Linked DNA regions of Homo sapiens: region 1 is linked to region 2. The links come from fine-mapping of genetic effects on gene expression. A gene starts in region 2. The other region holds a variant in brackets. All regions are shown on one strand. Distances are between the middles of the regions. Region 1 has its middle 28 kb from the start of HEATR1. Region 2 holds the start of LGALS8 (galectin 8).

Evidence for each region. PIP is the estimated chance that this variant, and not a neighbour inherited with it, causes the effect.
Region 1: its variant is fine-mapped to the expression of LGALS8 in whole blood (TOPMed, PIP 0.97).

The regions. Positions count from the first base shown.
Region 1 is chr1:236,628,045-236,637,386 of GRCh38, reverse strand. No RefSeq gene overlaps it. Among named protein-coding and RNA genes, the nearest start is that of HEATR1, 28 kb to the right of the region's middle. The variant G/A (reference allele first, on the strand shown) is at 5,925.
Region 2 is chr1:236,519,463-236,528,804 of GRCh38, reverse strand. It overlaps LGALS8 (galectin 8), which reads right to left and starts at 4,823. Exons shown (of 10, transcript NM_201544.4): 1 at 4,744-4,823; 2 at 2,690-2,837. The coding sequence starts at 2,734. It overlaps LGALS8-AS1 (LGALS8 antisense RNA 1), which reads left to right and starts at 4,297. Exons shown (of 1, transcript NR_034040.1): 1 at 4,297-5,736. RefSeq lists a silencer at 4,481-4,530.

The DNA of each region.
Region 1 (9,342 bases), 110 kb before region 2:
TTCATTCAATGAAAAACTATTGGTGTTGTATAACCCAATGAATCATTTTTGTATTTTGAATCTTTAAAAATATATACAAGTGCTATTTTGCTTGAAGTGCTGTTTATTTATAAGGTTTTGACAATTAAACTGACTCAATTAAAAATTAAATTTAATTAATTAATTTTTTTTTATTTCTTTTTGAAACGGAGTCTCGCTCTTGTCACCCAGGCTGGAGTTCAGTGACACAATCTGGGCTCGCTGCAACCTCCACCTCCCAGGTTCAAGCGATTCTCCTGTCTCAACCTCCTGAGTAGCTGGGACTTACAGGAGCCTGCCACCCACACCCGGCTAATTTTTGTATTTTCAGTAGAGACGGGATTTCACTATGTTGGTCTGTCTGGTCTCGAATTCCTGACCTCAGGTGATCCATCCGCCTCGACCTCGTAAAGTGCTGGGATTACAGGCGTGAGCCACCGCGCCCTGCCAAAAATTGAATTTAAACAGTTACTTCTAATAATGATGGAACGGGGCTTTGGTGAAGAAGGCAAATGTGCCACTCAAAATCTTTTTGGTTTGCGTTGTTTTGGAAAAGTTATGCATAGAGGTAGAACTTTTCTTGAAGTTCAGCAAAAGGCTTAAAGGCAAATTTGAAATATTTTCTCAAATATTCTTGATTAAAAAAAAATTAAGGCTGGGCACTGTGGCTCACACCTGTAATCCTAGCACTCTGGGAGGCCGAGGCAGGCAGATTGCTTGAGCTCAGGAGTTTGCGGCCAGCCTGGGCAACATGGCAAAACCCTGTCTCTACTAAAAATACAGAAAATTAGCTGGGTATGGGGGTGTGTGCCTGTAGTCCCAGCTACTTGGGTGGCTGAAACGGGAGATCACGTGAGCCTGGGAGGAAGAGGTTGCAGTGAGCCGAGATCATGCCACTGCACTCCAGCCTGGGCGACAGAGTGAGACCCCCTCTCAAAGAAAAAAAAAAAAAGTTAAAAAGGCAAGCTTACCAGCAAAGGACTAGCCTGCTTTTCTCCAATCGACTCTGTCTTGGCCTTGCCTTGTGGTAGCTATTCTTTCCACCAAAGACCAATAGCACTCTTGTAGGGTTCTTCGGCACTTGGCACCGAGCCTAGGGAGTCACCTTGGTAGATAGAACAAACTATATGCCAGGCCACCTGCCTTGCTGTGTGTCATGCCTCCATGGGCGAGGAGGCTCCTGTCACGTACTGACTGCAGTATGTTTATTTATGCTGGTCACTTATCTTGTCCACAGCCGGGTGATTACAGGGATTCCCTTTGCCTCACTCTGTAACACTGGAGGTGTACACACACACACAAACACACACGCATGCACACATGCATGCTTTCCCTCTTCTTCCCTTGTTCCTTGGCTGTTGCAGAAGCATCACTGCGTAATATCATGTCTGAGTCTAGCCGGGTCTATCTACCACATTACCACCCCCACCACCCTTCGCAGTTCTAGTATCAGTATCTGATGGAAATAGGACCTTCAGTGGAAGAAGGGAGGAGAGAGAAAGAGACTAAGAGAGAGAGAGAGAGACTAAGAGAGAGAGAGAGAGAGAGACTTTCCATCTCCTCCTCCTCACTCCATTCCCACTGCTCCTTTCACCCCAATACTAGTCCATAGTTTTGAGTATGGACGAAAGAGAAGGATGGAAAGACCCTCGTCTTGGTTTCCGCCACTGCGTCTCCCTCCTGTCCCTACCACCTCACTCCCCCAGCATGTCCGTGGTGAGGAGAGTAGGAGGGAGATGGGAAAATGATTGATCTGAAGACAGTGGAGCCCTGAGCTGCCCTCCCTGCTCCTGACCCTCTGAGCTACACGAAGGGATCAACATACCCTTCGCCCTGCCCCATCGGTTCCCATACCCTCTCCATTCCAACAGCTTCTTCCCTAGTCCTTTCCTCTTTAGGATCCCCAATCCTTGCTTCCTACCTCTTCCCAGCCTCCAAGGCTCAATAACCTCTGCCCCTGGCCATAGGATCCTTACTGGTGGTATAGACCTGGGAAGTTTGTAATCTGGGTTGTAGGACTGCAGCTGTGGAGACATAGGTCCTCCACGTCCAGAGTTAGGACTCTGTCAAAGTGGGTTTTGCTCCCATTTCCACAATAGCTATTGAATAAAGTGCAAATTTATGATGATACATAGGCCCGTTACAACCCAGCTCTGTTCTTCCCTCCAGCCACATCTCCTGCTCTCTCTCCTTCTTGTGCCCTCCCTGCATCCAGGCCACTACACCATTTATATTTTTGTTCATGCTAGTTCTGTTATTTTTCAACTTTTTAATTGTGGTAAAATACATATAACAAAAAAGTTACCATCGTAACCTTTTTTTTCTTTTTGAGATGGAGTCTCGCTCTGTCGCCCAGGCTGAAACCTCCACCTTCTGGGTTCAAGTGATTCTCCTGTCTCAGCCTCCTGAGTAGCTGTGACTATAGGCATGCACTACCACACCTGGCTAATTTTTGTATTTTTAGTAGAGACGGGGTTTCGGCATGTTGGCCAGGTTTGTCTCGAACCCCTGACCTCTGGTGATCTGCCCACCTTGGCCTCCCAAAGTGCTGGGATTACAGGCATGAGCCACAGTGCCTGGCCTGCAAATACTACACCACTTTGTATAAAGGACTTGAGCATCTGTGGACTTCAGTATCCATGTGGGTCTTGGGACCATTTCTCTGCAGATACCTAGGGACAACTGTGCCATATTTTGTTCATCCATTCACCTGTCAGTGGGCACTTGCATTTCTTCCACTATGCTATTTCTTTTGTGTGCAATCCTTGCCCTTCACCTCCTTACCCATTTGCTAGAAACTCATTCTTCAAGGAGTAGCTAAAATGTCCTTTGTGGCTCTCCAGGACCTGCTTCTCCCTCTCCCTCCAGGTAGAATTCACTGCACCCCAAGCCCGCGTTTCCATACTTCTCATGTACCCTCCTATTAGTGCATTTATCCCACAGTAGGAAAGTTTTTGTTTATGCTCTTCCCTCCTCTATGCACAATATACATCCACAGGGAGTTATTGGAAAGTCAAAGGACATGTCTGCTTCATTTTAAATTCCTAGTGAACTAGTGTTTGGTAAAATAAGTGTTTGATGAATAGAGGTAAGTATATGACATCATTTATCAGTTCCACAATATAGGCATGTTGTAGATTATTCATTAAATTAAAAAAAAGTATACCTACCATGTGCTGGGAACTATTCTAGATACCACAGATACAGCTGTAAGAGTGACAAGGTACCCACAGTCACGGACACTGCAGGTGGGGGATGGACAAACAAGCAAGCAAACAAATAAATGAATAAGATTATTTCAGAGAGTCTCAAATTCTGTGATCGAAGTACTACAGGGTGATGTGATAGAGTGTTTAGGTGACATACTTCCCATTGAGTGGTGACAGAAGGCCATTCCAAGGAAATATTAGTAGGATTTACTCTGAGGCTGGATAATCAGGAGCCAGTGAATATCTGGGAGGCACCATATTCTAGAGGGGGAACGGCAATTGCACAGCCCAAGGTATGAACAAGATTGTCATGTTTGAGAAACAGAAGAGTCAATGTTACTGGACAAAAGTAAGAAAGGGAATGTTATGGAGTGAATTGTATCCAACCCAAAATTCATATGTTGAAGCCTTAACCTCCAATGTGATGGTATTTAGAGATGGGAGCTTTGGGAGGTGCTTAGGCTTAGATGACGTCATGAGAGTGGGGCTCTTGTTTTTTTGTTTGTTTGTTTTTGAGACAGAGTCTCGCTCTGTTGCCCAGGCTGGAGTGCAGTGGCACGATCTTGGCTCACTGCAACCTCCGCCTCCCGGGTTCAAACGATTCTTCTGCCTCAGCCTCCCAAGTAGCTGGGACTACAGGTGTGCACCACCACGCTCGGCTAATTTTTGTATTTTTAGTAGAGACAGGGTGTCACCATATTAGCCAGGCTGGTCTTGAACTCCTGACCTTGTGATCCTCCCACCTCGGCCTCCCAAAGTGCTGAGATTACAGGTGTGAGCCACCGCACTTGGCCTGAGGGTGGGGCTTTCATGATGCAATTAGTGCCCTTATAAGAAAAGACATCAGGGCTGGGCATGGTGGAGTCTCACTCTGTCGCCCAGGCTGGAGTGTGACTCTGTCTGAAAGAAAAAGAAAGAGAAAGAAAGAAAGAAAGAAAGAAAGAAAGAAAGAAAGAAAGAAAGAAAGAAAGAAAGAAAGAAAGAAAGAAAGAAAGAAAGACAGAAAGAAAGAGAGAGAGAGAGAGAGAGAGGAAGGAAGGAAGGAAGGAAGAAGGAAAGAAGGAAAGAAAGAAAGAAGAAAGAAGGAAGGAAGGGGAGGGGAGGGGAGGCCAGGGGAGGGGAAAGAAAGAAAGAAAGAAAGAAGGAAAGAGAGAGAAAGAGAAAGAAAGAAAAAGAAAGGAAGAAAGAAAGAAAGAAGGAAAGAAAGAAAGAAGAAAGAAAAGAAAGAAAGAAAGAAAGCAGGAAAGAAAGAAAGAAAGAAAGAAAGAAAGAAAGAAAGAAAGAAAGAAAGAAAGAAAGAAAGAAAGAAGAAAGAAAGAGAAAGAAAGAAAAAGAAAGGACATCAGGGAGTGGCCAGCAGGAAGAAACCAACCATTGCTGGAAACTTAATATTGGACTTTCCAGCCTCTAGAACTGTGAGAAAGTAAAATTCTGTGTTTAAGCCACCCAGTCTATGGTATTTTGTTATGAAACCCCAAGCTGGTTCAGGGAACACCAGATGAGGTAAAAATAGCAGGCAGGAGAACAGATCTTTTAGGATTGTGAATTGTAATGTGGAACATGAAAACTTCATCATCTTCTGTGTGCTGGCTAGTGTCAGTTATCCTTTGCTGTATAAAAATCACCCCCAAAATTAGTGATTTGAAACAACTGTCCCCATTTATTTACTCATGATTTTGCAGTTGCTCAGGACTTGGTGGGGATACCTTGACTCTGCTTCTCGCAGTGTTGACTGAGGTCATACTTGCAGCTACATTCAGCTGGCAGCTTCACTGGGGCTGGAACAGCAAAGACAGCTTCCCTAACATACCTGGCACCTCAGCCAAGGTGGCTGCAATGGCTGGAGGCTCACTGGGCCTTCCACTTCTGTGTGGTTTCTCGTGATTTCGTAGTCTATCCTGAACTCCTTTTCACGGCAACTGGAATGCAAAAAGATGAAAACAGAAGCTACAATGTCTGGGAACAGAAGTCCTAGAATGTCACTTCTACTACACCTATTACTCACTATTAGTCAAAATAAACTCCTCTCCCAATACTTCTCAAAGACTCATCCAATTATGGCGCATGAGTTGAAGTCCAGTTTCTTGTGATCTGCATCAGGTCCAAATGTAGAAAAGTCTCCTCAAAGGTGAGGCCTCTGGCTCTCGATACCTGCGAATTACCTGAGTATCTACCTCTCCTCCACCCAACATCTAAGGGTGAGACAGGGGTAGCTGCTATCTCTGGTCCATAGCAGTGACTGTTTCATAGCAGTTAGGAAATCAACCAAACACGTATCATGAGTTCCCTTGACTCCAGAGTCAAGGGCAGGAAGACACAGAAAGCTCCTCGCTTAGGGTCCTTGTTTACAGGTTACTGCTCTCTGGCTTCGGTTTCCTGATCTAGTATTCTCCATTGTTCTTGGTTCCACCATCTGAGCTCTTGAGTCTGCCCTGTGTTGCTGCCCCTTTCCATAGTGACTGAGTAATGTTTGCACCTGGTTCTGCTTTTGACCAAAGGGAGCGGGAGTCCCAAAGTCTCTTTGCATTTTGAACTCTTTCTGCTTCCCTTGAGTCCAACTTGGTACAACTCCTTTAAAGTCTTTTATCAAATTCCAATCCATTTCCATAAACAAAAGCCACAATCACAATTATCTTCAAGATAAGCTCCTTTCCACTTAGGGCTACAAGTCAGGGTACTGTGGAACAATGTTCCAAA[G/A]GTTCTCAGAAGCATAGGAGAAAGGATCTGTGAAGCCACTTTAAATTTTTATGTGACCTTGACAAAGAGTCTTATAGGGACACTTTGTTTTAATCTTGCTCCAAGGCCCTGTTACACTAGTCGCATCCTGGATTTGATCTTTTCCCCGAGACTATTTCTTACTTCAAGAATCTTTTTTCAGGGCCCAGTGCAGTGGGTGGCTCACGCCTGTAATCCCAGCACTGTGGGAGGCCGAGGCAGGCAATCGCATGAGGTCAGGAGCTCCAGACCAGCCTGGCCAACATGGTGAAACCCCGTCTCTACTACAAATACAAAAATTAGCAGGGCCTGGTGGTATGTGCCTATAATGCCAGCTACTCGGGAGGCTGAGGCACAAAAATTGCTTGAACTGGGGAGGTGGAGGTTGTAGTGAGCCAAAATCACGCCACTGCGCTCCAGCCTGGATGACAGAGCAAGACTCTGTCTCAAAAAAAAAAAAAAAAAAAAAAAAGCAAACAAACAATAAAACCTTTTTCCAGCTGGAGATGCTGAGAATGAGAAAGTGGTTTTATTTTCCAAACCAATAAATCCTGGGTTGGAAATACATCCTCTAACGTTTGCTTGAAAACTGCACAGTTCCTTCTTTAGCTCATCTCTCTCTTCCCTTACCTTATCACAGGCAGTGAGTTAAGATAAATGAATTGGCACTTTTCATAATTTGCTGGAAAATCTCCTTGGCAAACCCACAAGTACACGGGCCCATGTTTAACTTAGCATGTTAACTTAGTGCCACCTATAGCGCTTGTGGCCCTTCCTCCAGCTTCCCATGGAGTTTCTTCATTGTTCTTCCAGCCTCCACTTCTGTATTCCTATCACTTCTCTGGCCTCCATCTCCCTGATCCTATAGCCAATGACACACATATTAGGTTTTTGTTATATGACAGCACCCAACTTTGGGGTACCCATTTTGGTACCAGCTGCCATTATTTTTTCAAGAGATAGTGTCTCACTCAATCAGCTGGAGTGCAGAGGCATGATCATAGCTCACTGTAACCTCAAACTCCTGGACTCAAGTGACCCTCCCACCTCAGTCTCCCAAGTACAGGTGTGCACCACCATGCCAAGCTAATTTATTTATTTATTTTTGTTCCCCAGTCTGATCTCGAACTCCTGGGCTCAAGTGATCCTTCCTGCCTCAGTCTCCCAAAGCAGTATCAGTTATCTATCAATGCATAACAAACCAATCCAGAACTTAAAACAAAAATCACTTATTTTTTCTCACAGTTCTGTGGGGTTGAGTGGGCAACTCTTCCACTCTACCAGTTGTTGGCCAAGGCTCACCCACGTGACTGAATTCAGCAGGTGGCTGGGCTTTTCTGGAAGAAAGGTCTCTCTCATACATCTGGGACCTTGATTCAATCTTCAGCAGGGGTGCCTTGTTTCTCCTCCTCATGGCCTCTCTCTCCATGTGGTATTACATCCTCCATGTCCTCTCCACGTGGCCTCTTTTTCCAGCAGAATAGCATGGACTTCCTTACAGTATGACCACCAGTTTCCAAGGAAGCAAAGCAAAAACTGCCAGGTATAGATAGCATCATTGCTATTTTCACTCTACTGTTCAAAGTGCCTCCCAGGGCCAACATTCTTTCAAGGAGGGGGAAACTAGACTCCATCTCCTGGAGTATGCACAGATAGGAGAAATTGTCAGCAGTCATATTTGTGGGACAAACTACTCTGTCGGGTCCAGCCCACTCTCTGCATCTCTTCTCTCTCCTCGCGTGATGCAGATTTGTCCTACAGAATTTTGAACATTTCTAGCCCAGGACTCAGGAAGTCACTTGAGTGCCTTTTAATATGTGTTCAGCTCTGACTTTGACCCCTGGTTCACATTAGCGGGTTTCTATATTGTTCCTGAGACCCAAAGCTTGAACTCTATACTGCAGGGGCAGTAACTAAATCTCCTTCTTGCACCTGCTGAGGTAAAATGACTATTATTATTAATAGCAAATATTTGTTAAACTTGTTCTCTGTACCAAGCAAACCTGGAGAGTTTCATATTACCTTCATTTTGCAAATGAGAAAACTGAGATCCAGAGAGGTTGGTTAGGTGGCTCATGGTAGTAAGTGGCAGACTGAGCCCGACCAGCTCAGATGGTCTGGGCTAAAACCTGTCTATGTAACTCCCAAACTCTTCCTGGGTTGTGGTATTGCATAACTCTCATCAGTCTCCCTTACCTGAAGTGGCTTCTAACTCCTGACCCCTGCTTGGATTTTGGGTCATGCTACATGCCAAGATGCTTCGTACTGCTGATCCCATGACTTCTTGCCTTTTAAAAAAATTAAGTGCATATTCTACTATAATACAGCATACATACAGAAAAGTATATATAGTTTATAGCCTGATGGTTTTCACAAAATGAACATACCTGTGTATTTACTGCCCAAATCAAGAAACAGAACATTCCCGTGACCCCAGAAACCCTTATGCCTCCTCCCAGTAACTACCTATCTCTGCTGCACAAATTATTCCCTTCATTATAGATTAATTCTTACTGGGTTTGAATTTTATATAGATAGAATCGTGCTATTTGTATTCCTTTGCATCTGACATCTATTGCTTGATATTAGGCTTGTAAGAGTCTGTCATATTGCTGTGCGTTGCAATGGTTTGTTTGTTCTCATTGCTGAATAGTATTCCACTGTATGACAGTTTCACAATGTATATGTTTATTCTTCTGTTGATAAACATCTGCATCGGAAGCAGATTATGCTATTACAAAATATGCTGCTATGGACATTCTCAAACATGCCTTTCGGTGTTCGTACGCACACATTTCTCAACATTTCTGTTGAGTATATAGCATACCTGAGAGTTTCAGTAATGAGAAAACAATAATTTTACAGAATATTTGTACCAATTTGTACTTCCACCAGCAGTATAACAAAATGTCAGTTGTTCCACATCTTTACCAACATTTGGTATTGCCTGTCTTTTTAATATTAGCCATTCTGGTGGGTGTGTAGTGAAATCTCACTGTGGCTTTCATTTGACTGGTTACAAATGCTGTGGAGAACATACTTATATGTTTATTAGACACATTCAGATATTGTCTCTTTAAAAGTGCTTGTTCAAGTCTTTTGTTATTTTTTTCTATTGAATGTCTATTTTTTCTTTTTGATTTGAAGCAGTTCCTTAAATATTCTGCATATGAGTCATTTGTCAGATACATATGAATTACAAATATTTTCTCTGTTTTGCAGTTACTATTGCACTAATGATGTTTTTGGTAAACAGCCCATCACTACTCCTACATTGCCAGTTGCTAGACTCTGCTTCCCAATAGGGTCTCCCCATTTCCTCTGGGCCCTCTCTAATGCTGACTGCTGCCTGTAATCTTGCCTTCAGGGCAATGTCCCCTGCCGGCTGCACTGAACACCT
Region 2 (9,342 bases):
TCATGCCTGTAATCCCAACACTTTGGGAGGCCGAGGCGGGAGGAGTGCTTGACCAGACTGAGAAACATGGCAAAACTCTGTCTTTACCAAAAAAAATACAAAAATTAGCCAGGCATGGTGGTGCATGCCTGTAGTCCCAGCTATTTACAAGGCTGAGCCCAGGAGGTGGAGGTTGCAGTGGGGTAAGACTGCACCACTCCACTCCAGCCTGGATGACAGAGCGAGCCTCTGTCTTAAAAAAAAAAAAAAAAAAAAAAATTGGAAACATTAATGAAATAAAAATTAAAAAGTGGCGGTGTGTTTATAATGCCTAATAAAGAATACAACAGACAATAAATATATTTACTTATTGAACCTATCAGTAACAAAACAACCATGATTCAAGAAAACAGGTTTTGTGTGTGGGGGGGTTTTTTTTTTTTTGAGATGGAGTCTCGCTCTGTCACCCAGGCTGGAGTGCAGTGGCACCATCTCGGCTCACTGCAACCTCCGCCTCCCAGGTTCAAGTGATTCTCTTGCCTCAGCCTCCCGAGTAGCTGGGATTACAGGAGGCTGCCATCACGCCTGGCTAATTTTTGTATTTTTAAGTAGAGACGGAGTTTCGCCATCTTGGCCAGGCTGGTCTTGAACTCCTGACCTCGTGATCCACCTGCCTCGGCCTCCCAAAGTGCTGGGATTACAGGTGTGAGCCACCATGCCCAGCTGAAAACCGTTTTCCTAAGTCTAGCTTATAAAATATACTAATTGATTATCTTTAAATAACTAAGTTGGCCAGGCATGGTGCCTCACGCCTGTAATCCCAGCACTTTTGGAGGTCAAGGTGGGCACATCACCTGAGGTCAGGAGTTTGAGACTAGGCTGGCCAACACTGTGAAACCCCATATCTACTAAAAACACAAAAATTAGCCGGGCATGGTAGCACGTGCCTGCAGTCCCAGCTACTCAGGAGGCTGAGGCACTAGAATTGCTTGAACCCGGGAGGCAGAAATTGCAGTAAGCCGAGATTGCATCATTTCACTCCAGCCTGGGTGACCAGAGGGAAACTATATCTCAAAAAATTAAAAAAAAAAAATTAATTGAATAAATAAAATAAGTTATTTACAGCCTTTTTTTTTGGAACATTGAAAGGGCAACTAGCTACAAATGAGAGAAATTCAGTGCAATACAGGCCCTTTATACTATAAATATTTTACAGCAGTGAAACGTAAAGAGAGCGCAAAATGTTTTTGCCATTCAGTTCAGTCTACCTCTAACCTTTCCGACTCTTTTGTGAGAACTGATAATAAAACAGAGAATTTTGAAAAGAAAGAAAAAAAAGCTATTTGCCAAAAATATCTCCCTTGGAAATGCATTATCCTCAGAACAGCATCCAGCCCATGCCACAAGACTGAAGGCATTTTCTGCTCTAGCGCAGAACTACTTCTCCAGATCCCCTTCCTCAAGAAATGAAGTCTACTTATTTTTGTTCCACCTCAATAGTTGAGAGTACTGACCCCAGAAACTACAGGAATCAGCAGTATGCTAGAATCAAGATATGCACGAATTTTACCTATAAAATTATCTTCTTTTCTGTGTGAAGGGCAGAAATGAACAGTGTAACCTTTATCCATTCTCCCAGCTTGAGCCAAGATGATACTTCAGACACCCGTGGCAGGCAGCCTAGTTTGTTGTTGTTGTTGTTGTTAAGATCTTTGCAGGAAATCAGTTTACAACCTTGGGATGTTTTTAACTCTAACATGCGCAAAGTCATCTTAAATGTCTCACAAGCTTCCGCTTCAGGAAGTCATCTTTTTTAAACTTACTACCACTGAAAGGCTATTTCTCCTAAAACTGACTTTGCTTGATACAGCAGCGATACCTCATTCTTACACAATGACATTAAAACTTAGGGAAAAAGGAAATACAGCTATAAAGTAAATGACAAAAACTTGAACCCACACACACTAACAAAACTGGTTTAGGGCCTCATTTTAAGGATTCTCACCCTTCCTTTTGCCCAAGAATCTTCTAGGCGGTTTACTAAAAAAGTGGCTGTCCTTTTTCAGACCTCGATTCAGGATTCAGCTTCAGATACGTGGAAACTAGACATTCCTAAAGATTCTCACCACCACATAAAACTAAAACAAGCTCTTTACTGCTCAGGATTACAGGGCAATTTCCAGCAATTACAGTCATTCAGGGATTCTAGGACCTGCCTGAACTGCACGAGACCCTTACTACTTCACACTCTCCATCTCCCCATTGGCTTTTGACATTTTCCCTGCTCAAGGGCCAAGCAGTATTTGAAAGGCTGAGGGAAAGATCGAGACATTAACTTCTCATGGACAGCTCTAATTAAAAAAGAAAATGAAAAACTTGTAGAGTAAGAAATCCATTTTCCTTTAAAAACTACAATTTATGATTAGCTGAGCCTCCTCCCATCACCAAAAGTTGGCATTCCCTCCACTCTACCCAGACGTTCCCTGTTCATAACACTGTTTCATCACGTCATATTATCATTGTGACTTCTTCCTCCACTAGAGGACAAGAGCTGTTTTGTAATCAGCACCCACCACCATCTCTATTACATAGTAGGTGCTTTAAATATGTTCACTGGCTTTTATTCTTGCCCTGTCTCCCAATGGATAATTAATATTCTATTGGATCTGTCCTGGCATAGGTAAAAAGTTATCTTATAGAAATCAGTTACCGGGTTATAGATGATATTCTGTAGGTTGTTTAAGGACAACATCATTCTTTTCCAGCTTCTTGTCGATTGGAGTCTCTTCTGTGTATGACCTAAGATTTTAGGCAAGTTTCATTTAAAGGTTACCTGGATTGAAACTGAGGCACTGGCCCTGTGTAAAGTAAAAATAGAGGAAAAGAAAAGTAAGCATGTAGCATTTTTCTTCATATCCTATTTTAAAATTTAAATTATATATTATGTTACTGATATTTACCAAATAATAGAATATTATTACAATCAACGATCTGCCTCCCATTCTTACCAGTGTGCTCATATACTAAATAATTTTGGATTGTGAGTGTAGGAAATATTGACTTAAAAAATACATCAGTAGAAAATTTCTAACATGGAATTTATTATTAAAAATACTAAAATAGGCCAGGCATGGTGGCTCACACCTGTAATCCCAGCACTTTGGGAGGCCAAGGCGGGTGGATCACCTGAGGTTCAGGAGTTAGAGACCAGCCTGACCAATATGGTGAAATCCCATCCCTACTAAAAATACAAAAATTAGCCAGACGTAGTGGCATGCACCTGTAGTCCCAGCTACTCAGGAGGCTGAGACAGGAGAATTGCTTGAACCTGGGAGACGGAGGTTGAAGTGAGCCGAGATTGTGCCACTGCACTCCAGCCTGGGCAACAGAACGAGACTCCATCTCAAAAAAAAAAAAAAATTTAATTAATTAATGGTAAATACTAATCAAACAGTCCCGTACAATTACCAGAGGTATTCATTTAGATTTTCATTTCCATAAAATGAGAATTACAGTATTCACATCATTGGTTTGTTCTGAGGATTGAGTTAATAAAACAGCGAAAGAGTAAGCGCTATGTTAGCTATTATTATTGTGAATAGAAAGAATTGCTCTTCCTCCTCCAATTTAAACAAATCAAAGTAGGGAAAAATCCAATACTTTTAATACTATTAAGATACGGTTTTCTCTGTTGCTTAAAAAAATAATAATCACAGGGCAGGGGAGTGTTGGAAAGCATCAGCCACATTTTTTAAGATAAAAGCACTCATGGACACTACACTACATTTAATAGCTCCAGGAAAAACTCGACTTTAAGCAGAACTAAAGGGGAAATGAAACCAGAGCTTCCTGTATTTTACTTCCAGCAATTCTGTCATTATACTGCACACCAACAATACACACCGATCAAATCTATCACTTTTTCTTTATTAAGAAAAAAAACTGTATCCCTCTTGGTTTACCACCTAAATATAGCCCCATGTCATTAACTTAATTCGTTAGTCAAAACCTCAAAACTCTGGCTCCGTGACTCAATTCAGGAAGTAAGAACAAGAGCAAAAAGAATGGATGCCGAGTTGCCATACACATGTATAATAACAAGCCAGTGACCCAATTTAAGCCATCTGCTTGCATTAAATCACGCAACCCCCGAAGTATCCCCAGGGACAGGTCCCGCCAGCATGAACACTTCGTATGCATCACAAGCAGCCATCACTTAAGTTTCACGTACGGTCAAAGGAAGTCACATGACTTGCGCTTTGCAATGTTTAACACTGCAGTCAAATGACTCGGCATCCTAAAGAGCGTGTTAGAGGCAGGGAACGCAATGGAGGTCACTCCACTGTCACTACAAATTCCGGGAAGGAAACTTCCCCAGATTCCTCCACTTGGAGGTGGCGCTCGGCCTCAGGCTAGGAGGGAACAGGTGAGAAAGCAGCCCAGGTGGGGTGGGTTTGCAGCGAGGAGACACCCCAGGGCAAACAGCCTGACCCCAGCCAGGGATGTCCAAGAAAGGCCGCGACTCCTGATAATCCCTTATGCCCCGGAGCGCCTCGCCTGCAGAGGCAGCGTCCCCGCCACCCAGCCCCGGCTCTGCCGCGGTGAGGACCGGCGGGTCGGGGTGGACTGGACACTGTCCCACCCATCAAATGGTGATTTAGGAGCCGTGACATCCGAATGCCATCCTCCACTGGCGAGACCCTCAGAGCAGCCACGCCTCTAGCGACTGCCCCGCCACCCGAGGCCGGGGGTCGCGCGACTCACCCAAAGACTGGTGTTTCAGGCGCTCCACGGAGCAGGTTGTTTGTCAGCAGCTAAGTGCCGTCAGGGTTCCCGGCTCTGGCGTCCGTGGGCGGCTACGGGAAGCGACAGGAGTCAGTCCTCGTTCACTTCCCGGCTCGCGCGCCTCACTGCTGTGGTCTCCCCACCCTCCCCGCGCCCCGCCTTCTGTGTCTGGGGCGTCCCTGGCGGCTCTGCTGGGTTTTGGACAGGGACCCGCCGCTGATCGCCACCCAGCTCGGCCTCCTGCACAGCCTCTGGAGCCTTGGACCGCGACTGGCTTGCTGTGGGACGAGCACAGAGGGATAAGGACAAAGAATGTGTCCTGGGTGGATCTGGCTGCCTTTGCCCGGAAGGCGGAGTGGGGTGGGAGGTGGTAGGAAAATGGGAAGGAAAGAAAAGAAAGGTGGGCCGACGTCCACCTGGCTGTTCCAGGCCTCCAGGTCTAGGAGGGAGGGCGCTCGGGGCTGGGACTTTTCAGGACCAGGGTGGTCACCGCACAGGCCCCGCCTGCCTGGACCAAGCGCTGGCCTTCCCGGGGCGCCCAGGTCCACGGGGTCAACGCCAGGGTTTTCTCAGCTTCCTCGTCTGCCTCGGATCCAAGTCCAGACAGTGCCAGAAGAGACTTGGAGGCGCTGCTTTTTGACAGTACACACCTCTGTATGCAGGTGAAACGGTGGGGGAAGGGTTCAGTACGCTGGACTGTGCCCAGCCCAAGCTCCCCATCCGTTAGTGATAACTTGGACTCGCAGCCACTCCGCGTCACTCGCCAGTTATCCTGCGTGTGGGTGTTTTCTCCAAATTGGACACTTAGGGAACAGTTTAAGCAGTATGGAGCACAATTCTGTGCCTATTAGATGCTCTTAAATACCCGACTTCTCAGGGCCCTACACTGACTGATAGTTTGACCTATTGGCTGTAAACACACCAGCCAGAAATACAAATAAAGTTAAACAAAGTCATGTCAGCCACTTGGAATGGCTGGCTGCTTACTGTTTATTTTCTGTTAGGGACCTCAAAGTTCTCATCTTCTCTACTTGGCTTTTATCCACATTTGTTTGGAAAGATATATTTTAGTGTCATTAACGTGGGCTTTCTCCTCCCTGGCTTTTGTTTTCATTATTTTTTGTTTTAATTGAGGAATTCATTACAAGTCCCATAACTGGGAACTCATGTTCTGATTCACTGTTGCTTTTCTCTCCTCCTTACCCATTTTCCAAGCCTGATGCACTTCTCAAGATCCAATCTGAATAGGTGAATTTACCCTTGACATACACTGCCTTGGATTTATAGCTGTCTTTTGGTATGTGTTGTGTGTTTTATCTATCCAACTCGACTGTAGTTTGAGAAAAGGAACTTGTCTTATACAGTCTCCAGTGCATAGTGTAATGCTTTGCATAAAATAGATATCAATGTTAGGTTGAAATGTTAGATTATTGATAAAGTCAGGAGCAATTGAATATCTTCACAATTCTGCCTGAGTCTCCCCCCAGCCCCGCCACTTTGAGACAGGGTTTCCCTCAAGTGATCCTCCCACCTCAGCCCCAGGAGTAGCTGGGACTATAGACGCACACCACTATGCCCAGCTAATTTAAAAATTTTTTTTTGTAGAGACAGGGTCCACTGTGTTGCCCAGGCTGGTCTCAAACTCCTGGGCTCACAATATCTTCCTGCCTTGGCCTCCCACAATGCTGAAATTACAGGCATGAGACACCAAGCTGGGCCCTGAGTCAACCTTGTACTTCTTTACAAAGCTAAAATAAGTTGAAATAAGTACACATAAATGCTGTGTTTCTTTTGTAAGTCATATTTAGGTGCAAACGGGGCTGAGTGAAAGGGCCAGAGAGCAGAGTTAACAAAGAAAATCTGGATTAAAATGTTCATAAATCCTAAGAACTTATTCCTAGAAATATCTCCCTCATTTGGCACTGTTGTTCAATTAGCCCAGTGTGTTATTTTAAATAAGCAAATATTCACTGAATGCCTATCATGGCCAGGCACAGCAGTAAAGAATACTAGCATGCAAAGGACCTCATGGGCCCTTCTAGATAGAGTCCCACATCTCTTACATTATTACTGCAGTATCCTAATCGGTCTCCCTATATTTGCCCTTGCCCCTCTGCAATGTAGTCTCAACACAACAGCCAGAGAAGTCATGACAAAACATAATTCAGATCATGTTAATCCCTTACTAAAACCTACTTTTTTTTTTTTTTGAGGCAGTCTCACTCTGTTGCCCAGGTTGGAGTGGAGTACAGTGTTACATTCTCAGCTCACTGCAGCCTCTGCCTACCGTGTTCAAGTGATTCATGTGCCTCAGCCTCCTGAGTAGCTGGGACTACAGGTGCGCGCCACCATGCCCAGCTAAGTTTTGTATTTTTAGTAGAGATGAGGTTTCACCATGTTGCCCAGGCTAGTCTTGAACTCCTGACCTCAAGTGATCCGCCCGCCTCGGCCTCCTGTAACCTGGGATTGCAGGTGTGAGCCACTGCATCCGGCCAACCGTCTACTAATTTTTGCTCATTCTTTGAGTAAAGATCCAGTTCTTACACGAGCACTTCCTGATCTGCCCGAATCCTCACACACTGTGATTTCATCTCCTACTACTTTCCTTCTCACTTTTTCTGCAGCAGCCACAGCGACTTTGCTATTCTCCTAGCAGGCCTGTCACACTCCCATCCTAAAATCTTTACTCAATATTTCCTTTTCCCTTTTCAAGTCTACTCAAATGTCAGTTCTCAGTGGGGCCCTTCCTGACCACCAATATTTAAAATTGCAAACACTCTCCCAAAACACACTCATACACACTCCCTAGCAACTCTTCCTTGCTTTATTTCTGGCTAACATTTGTCATGCTAATATACTATATAAGGTGCCTTTTTATTTTATGTTACTTCACCCATCATAAGACTATAAACTCCATGAGGGCAAGGAGTTTTGATTGTTCTTGTTTCGAGGAAGCTTATACTCTAGTTGAGGACACATACAGTGATGTGTTTTAGAGAAGATTAAATTGGGAGCACCTGAGTGGCAACCTTAGTTGGGTGACAAGGAAAGTCTCTCAGAGGAGTCAAAGTTTAAGCTGCTGGTGAGTGAAAGAAAGGAAACAGCCATATGAAGATGGTGGGGAAGAGCATTCCAGCCTTAGCGAGCAGCTGCTGCAAAGTCCCTGAGGGTCTTGAGAATGCATTAAATGTGTTCAGGAAACAAAGGCCACCAACCAGTATGGCTGAAGCATGAGGGAAGAATGATATGACATCATGAGATTGGATGGCACCACCTAGGAGAGTAGTGGGAGAAAATCACCTCGGACAGCCCTGGGGAGATAAGACAACGCCAATAAATGAGACTGAGAAGGGACAACCAGGGGAATTTGCTGAGAGTGGTGTCACAGATGCCAAAGAAAGAGAAACAGCCTGTGTGCCAAGTGTGCTGAGAGGCCAAGGAGGACGGAAGTAAGCAATGGGCTTAGGAACATGGATGTCATTGCTGACTCTGACTCTGAAGTGTGTTGAGAAATGGGAGGTGAAGAACTGGTGGAAACCATGACTATAAAGATTTCAGAAAGGTTTGCTGTGAGGAGGAATGGAGAAGCAGCATTATAGCTGAGGAAGGAGTGGAGCAAAGGGCAGATTCAGGTTTTCTCCTGTTGTTTTTTTTTTTTTTTTAAAGAGAAGATACTACATTGGTGACTTTTAGACTTCTTTTTTTTCAAGTGACCTGCCATAAGAATTACATTTCCATTGAGACTTACTACACACATACTTAAAATTACGAAAACAAAAATTTTGACCAGGCACGTTGGCTCACTCCTGTAATCCCAGCACTTTGGGAAGCCGAGGCAGGTGGATCACTTGAGGTCAGGAGTTTGAGACCAGCCTGGCCAATATGGTGAAACCCTGTTTCTACTAAAAATACAATAATTAGCTGGGCCTTGTGGCGCATGCCTGTAATTTCAGCTACTCGGGAGGCTGAGGCATGAGAATCGCTTGAACCCAGAAGGCCGAGGTTGCAGTGAGCTGAGATTGTACCACTGTACTCCAGCCTGGGCAACAGAGTGAAACTGTGTCTAAAAAAAAAAAAAAAAAAAAAAAAAAATTGTACAAAACAATACTCCTGTTATGTGTAAAACAATCTACTTTTTCATTTTAAAAAAATGCTGCTTATAGTCCACTAAAATGTTTGCAAGCCCCACTAATGGGCTGTGAGCTGAAGTTTGAAGAACACTGGGTAGTATGTTGGTGTTAGCTCATACTGGCTTGTGACAGCCATTTTTGTACATAACTTCCATGTTGATACCTTGAAGTTATCCAGGGCAACTGCTAGAACTTAGGAACTTTTTCCCCCAAAGAACAAGATCTTAAACATTTACCAGCACGCTACTGACTTTACTCATGTGAATGATCCGTGGAGAGGAGAAACTGATCATGCAGGAGAGGGGATGGTGTTCCCAATAAAAGTTGCGAAAACCAGTTTCAGAACAATAGATATTGCCAATTATTTGCCACAACTGCCTGAGAGTTATGCAGATAAAAGGATCACTTCTGGTAGGATCAATTTCTTTTTCATCTATATTGTCCTCTT